Linked DNA regions of Homo sapiens: region 1 is linked to region 2. Evidence: fine-mapped expression QTL. A gene starts in region 2. The other region holds a variant in brackets. All regions are shown on one strand. Distances are between the middles of the regions.

The links. PIP is the estimated chance that this variant, and not a neighbour inherited with it, causes the effect.
Region 1: its variant is the best candidate, but not a certain one, in a credible set for the expression of FAM219B in whole blood (TOPMed, PIP 0.60).

Annotation. Positions count from the first base shown.
Region 1 is chr15:75,037,548-75,040,449 of GRCh38, forward strand. All of the region lies in intron 2 of PPCDC (phosphopantothenoylcysteine decarboxylase), which reads left to right. Among named protein-coding and RNA genes, the nearest start is that of PPCDC, 15 kb to the left of the region's middle. The variant C/G (reference allele first, on the strand shown) is at 1,555.
Region 2 is chr15:74,905,226-74,908,127 of GRCh38, forward strand. It overlaps FAM219B (family with sequence similarity 219 member B), which reads right to left and starts at 1,626. Exons shown (of 5, transcript NM_020447.5): 1 at 1,362-1,626; 2 at 1,053-1,140; 3 at 1-6. The coding sequence starts at 1,575. RefSeq lists enhancers at 236-1,042, 1,043-1,847, 1,689-1,968 and a silencer at 1,329-1,628.

The DNA of each region.
Region 1 (2,902 bases), 130 kb after region 2:
ACCAGCCTGGCCAACATGGTGAAATCCTGTCTCTAGTAAAAATTCAAAAATTAGCTGGGCATGGTGGCGCATGCCTGTAATCCCAGCTACTTGGGAGGCTGAGGCAGGAGAATTCCTTGAACCTGGGAGGTTGCAGTGAGCCGAGATTGCGCCGCTGCACTCCAGCCTAGATGACAAAGTGAGACTCTGTTGTTGTTGTTGTTGTTGTTTTTAACAAAGAAATGGGGGGATTCTTTGATCTCATTTTGTTCATCTTCTCTTTTGAGCTTGTGGTGGTAGGAGGGACCTGAACCGAGGCTGGGTGATTCATCTCCTGTCCTGGGCAAGTTCTCTCCTGGGGTGCTAGGGTACTGTGGTTGGTGACCTACAGGAAGTGTGGGAAACGTCAAAGGGGCCAGGGGCAGGAGATGGCTAGTATCCATTTATCAAAAAGGTGAAGGAGGTGAGCTCCACAAATTGCTACAGATGAGGCTTGTAAGTGCTAAGAAAAGCTAGATTGGGATCACTAGGAACAAGGCATATCGATTTTAGTTTATGTTTTGGATAGTAGACAAAGTATTTTTCGATTTAGATGAGGCCTTTGATGGAATCCTAGGACCTCTCCCTAGACCACCTGGGGATGTTGTCAGCATGTTATAGCCAGTGAAAGATCCAACTTGGAAAGAGTTTCTTCTTGGTTCTTTCTCACCCCTTGCTCTGCTGCCACACCCACGCCCGTGGACATTGTGGGTGGCCTCTGCCCTTGACTTTGTTCTGTTCATAATTTGGATTAGTGTCTCTGGGGGCTACTGATGGTGGTGCTGGCTGAGAGGAGGAGCAACAGGATTGAGCTCTCAGGAGCTCTCTGTAGGCTGAGCAAACAGCAGACCAACTCTGGTGAGGGGAAGTTTACCAGGGACATGTGAGGGACAGCATTTGGGACCAGAAAAATAACTGCTCAGATACAGCCTGGCGCTTGTGGCTTAGTAGCAGCATGAATGAGAATAATTTTTTTGAGTTTTTGCTGATTGCAAACTCCATACATCAGCAGAGGGATGTGGCCACCAGAAGAGCTGCTGTGGGCTCAGGCTGCACCAATAGACATGACGCTCTAATTTCTTCATGAACCTAACAGTGGGGTTGCCTTCTCCGACCCCTGGAGGCAGAGTAAATGGCTCTCACCTGTGGGTTCGTCACTTCTGGGAAATTTAATTTAATTTTTTTTTTGTAATTTTCTCCTATTTTTCTGTTCTCTCTGGAACTCTTTAATCGTCAGATTTTTTAACCTACTGAATTGATTCAATTTTCTCATCTTTTTTCTACTATTATCCGTTTCTTTATCTTTTTTTTTCTCCTTTCTGGAAGATTTCTTTTAGACTTGTGTTGAATTTTTTATTTCACTGTTTATAATGTTAATTTCTAAGAGTTCTTTTTTGTTCCTTGAATACTCATTTTAAAAAGTGTTATGTTCTTGTTTCTTGGGTGTAGTCTCTCATCTTTAAGTTTTCTTCTCCCTCTATTGTCTCTGGGTTTCTATTTTCTGTTTGTTTGTGTAATCTCTTTCTTGCTAGAGGA[C/G]TCTCCTCAGATATCTGATACTCCTTGGCTGTTCTTATTTGGGTGCCAAAAGTTGATTGGAAACTCTGTCTTCACTGCCAGGGACTTGGTACTCATCTGGTATTGAAATGTTTTGTTGGTGGACCTCTGAATTCCATATCTGAAGGTTTCCTTCCCTACCACATCTCCCTACTGCCAGGGTTATTTGTTTTTTCCAGAAGGACCCTATCAGTAGTCTCCTGCCTGGTTGACCTTGCGTTCTTAGGGTCAAGTAGGGGAAGCAGGCTTGGGTCTCTGTTTGGTCTGTAGATACTCACTTCTGCTCCAGGACTCCTTTGACCTCTGTTGTGCTAACTCTGCAAGGGTAGTATGTTTGGCTGCCTTGGGTGGGAAGAAGACCTGGGGGGACTTTAGCTGTTCCTTCTACAGGTCAGGAAGTCCTCCTGTATTCAGCTATCTGCCTCATGCTCACCTTTGTGGTACTCACTGCCTCAAGTCCTAGGCTCCTGGGCTCTAATTGGCTTGTGTCTCAGTTACTGTGTAGGCTTTGGATATTTTCTTTTCTCATCTAATCTAATCTTATCTTGTAGGATCTGCTCTGCTAGTGCTTCCTTTCGCTTCCATCTTCTGAAAGCGCATTGGCACGTCTTAACTGCTGTTGGTTCCTCTTCTTTTTGTTCTTGAGAATTTACTTCTTTTCTTTCTTTGTTTTTTTTTTTTTGAGATGGAGTTTCACTCTTGTTGCCCAGGCTGGAGTGCAATGGTGCGATCTCAGCTCACTGCAACCTCCACCTCCCAGGTTCAAGCGATTCTCCTGCCTCAGCCTCCCGAGTAGCTGGGATTACAGGCATGCGCCACCACACCCGGCTAATTTTGTATTTTTAGTAGAGATGGGGTTTCTCCTTGTTGGTCAGGCTGATCTCGACCTCCCCACCTCAGGTGATCTGCCCACCTTAGCCTCCCAAAGTGGGATTACAGGCGTGAGACACCATGCCCAGCCGTTCTCTTCTCTTCTATTCCTTGACAAGGTCTCACTTTGTCACCCAGGCTGGAGTGCAGTGGCATGATCTTGGCTCACTGCAGCCTCGACTTCCTGGGCTCAACTGATCCTCCCACCTTGGCCTCCAGAGTAGCTGGGACTATAGGTGTGTGCCACGATGCTGGCTAATTTTTTTGTATTAGAGATGTGGTTTCACCACGTTGCCCAGGCTGGTCTTGAACTCCTGGCCTCAAGCAATCTGCCTGCCTCAGTCTCCCAAAGTGCTGGGATTACAGGCGTGAGCCACTGAGTTTAGATCGTTTTAAAAAAAATTACTTTACTTTTATTTTAATGGGCTTCTGGGAGGGAGCAGAGTTTACCTTATTTAAC
Region 2 (2,902 bases):
ACTGACCTGAGGGGAGACGGGGGAGAAGAGACCAAACATAGATGAAAGCATAGGCATTTCACAGGGATAGGCAGAGTCCTCGCCCTGAAGGAGAAAGAATTGACTGCACTACTGACTTGCCTTCTCCCTGGTCACAGCCACCACTGCCTGCAGCTCCATGTACCTGGCTACAGTGCCTCAGAATGTGTATGTTCTCATTCTTTTTTTCTTTTTTTGGAGACAGAGTCTGGCCCTGTCACCCAGGCTGCAGTGCAGTGGCGCGATCTCGGCTCACTGCAATCTCCGCCTACCATGCTCAAGTGATTTTCCTGCCTCAGCCTCTTGAGTAGCTGGGACTACAGGCGTGCCCAGCTAATTTTGTATTTTTAATAGAGACGGGCTTTCACCATGTTGGCCAGGCTGGTCTCGAACTCCTGACTTCAAGTGATCCACCCGCCTCGGCTTCCCAAAGTGCTGGAATTACAGTCGTGAGCCACCACGCCCGGCCTGTATTCTACTCCTCCCATAGGTCTTGGAAAAAAGCACACCTCCCCTTGCCTGATCTAGGAAAAGCACCCTCTCCCCACTTATTTAATCAGAGGACACAAAAACTGCAAGTCTTTGGGTAAAAGGTTAGGGTTAACCTTCACTTCTCCGAGTTTCAACCCTCATCTGTAAAAGGAGGCACTGAATAAGGTTCTATGCAGCTCCGAGTTTACTATTCTGTTAAAAACAAACAAACAAAAACAGGTCTAGCCATTCCCACACTGCTCTTCGTCCTCATTGCTGGGGACTCCAGCCACCATTCTCCTCCCTAACAGAGGAGGAGAATGATAGTGAATGAGCCTGTGCACTCACAGAACTCCCTTATTCCGAAGCCCTTTATCTGATCCTATCACATCCTTAAAGGAAAAGAGAGATTGTTCCTCTTCCCATTTTAAAGATAGTGAACCTGACAGGTTGCATCAGGGGAATCGCTAGCTCGGCCTTAAACCAGAGCACCCTGCCTCCGTCCTGGGGATTAAAGCCTTCTCTAAAGCTGCTGGCACAGAGGAGGTGGCGCCTGCTGAGACCTTTTCCCTGAAGAGTCTGGGCGGTTCGGCGAGGCCCCCAGCATGCCTTTTCTCCGCAGAACGGCCTTGGCCAGGTCCCGGTGCTTCTCTGGAAGTTAAAGGACCCGGGTCAGCCGGGTCTTCCCCACTCCGCCGCGTCTCCCGAAGGCTGGGAGGCCGCTCTTTCCGAACGGATTTTGAGGGGCGAGAGCAGGCTGCAGCTAACCCCTTCCCTCCGGGGCCGAGGCCCAGCGGAGCTCCGGAACCCGCCCTGGGGACGCGGCCGCCCGCCCAGGGAGAAACCTCCCCCGACCATCGGGCCACACTCACGCAGCTTGGCTTGAATGGAGGGTGCGCGCGTCACCATGTATGGCCCCCGCTTTTCCACGGCCGCGGGGGTGCGCTCCCCCAGACGGAGGGCTCTATTACCGATCTGCCCGGAGGGTGGCCCCGCAGCTCCCGGCGCGCGGTCCCGAGCCCCGCTGGGCCGGGGTCCCGGGGTAGACAACCGCAACGCGCGCCCGCTGGGCTCCGCGGTCGCCATGGCCGGGCCCCGCCCTGCCGGATGGTGCAACCCCGCCCGTGGCGAAAGAGTGACCGGCCGAGGGAGAGGCGGGCTCTTTTAACAAGATGGCGGTGCGCAGGCGCAGGTAGTCCCCTTTCGGAGCTCTCCGGTTCGGTAGTCTGAGGACTTGGCCGAAATGTTCCGCCCTTCTTTTCGGGGGGACCGGGCAGTTCCGTTCTCGGTTTTGGGGTAGGCGGCTTGAGCCTGGTGATGGTTAGGCTTAGTTCTGTCTCTAGTGGAAATTAAATACTGATACTGTCGTGGGGCTGCGCGTGTGCGTCGGTCGGGTGCCCACGGTTTGAGTCCTGGCGCGCCGCACTCTGTGCTTCTCGCAGTGTCTCCTTGGGGGTCTCCCCACATGTGGGGCTGCCAGAGAGCAGACTTGGGTTGAAGAGTCATATGAGGACAAGCGTTATCAGCGACCTTTTCTAGCAAAAGAAACAGGCCCCAGAAGTTAAAGAACCTTGTGAAGGTGACACATCTAGAGGCAGTGCTTGCGCTGATCCATCTGACGCCAAACCCCACCTTCTTTCCAACACCAATTGGTGCCTGTGACATTGGACAGGACCTGACCCTCTCTAGGCCTCAGTTTCCACATTTAAAAATAGAGCCAATGTCACTACTCATTGTACAGTGAGGCAAATAGGCGTTGAAAAGGAGGGTGAAAGTGCACTCTGAGTCTGTGTGTGGTAGGCTATGTGTCAGGGCTCTTGACTTCTCTAGCCCCCAAGGGATGTGCTTGTGACTGGCTGGAAAGAAACTCCAGATCCTTGTAGAACTCCCAAATCTCATGAGGCTGTCCCTTGACTAACTTACTGGCTTCAATAGGGTAGGTCAACAGTGTGCAACCTCCGAGCTCCCAGGGCCACGCAGACCGTTGGGTGGCACTATGCCTTGGGCAAGAGAGGTGAAAAGGAAGAATTTAGGGCTGAAGTTTTCAAAAATCAAAAGCACAAAGGAATCCTTACCATTTTGGTAGATTCCCCCCACTCCCCATGATGTTAGACTGTTTTTGCCTCCAGAAACAGCAGGTTCATATAGCTCAACTTAGTATTTAATGGTTATAACCTCCCAATGAAGCCAATAGTTATTCTTGTTAAACAAATGAAGCTTAGACTTGGTCAAGTTTACCAGTTAAGTGATAAACCTGGAATTTGTACCCAGTTGCCTGTGGACTCCAAAGAAGTAGTTTTCTGGCCGGGCACAGTGGCTCACATCTGTAATCCCAGCACTTTGGGAGGCTGAGGCAGGCGGATCACCCGAGGTAGGGAGTTCAAGACCAGCTTGGCCAACATGGTGAAACCCC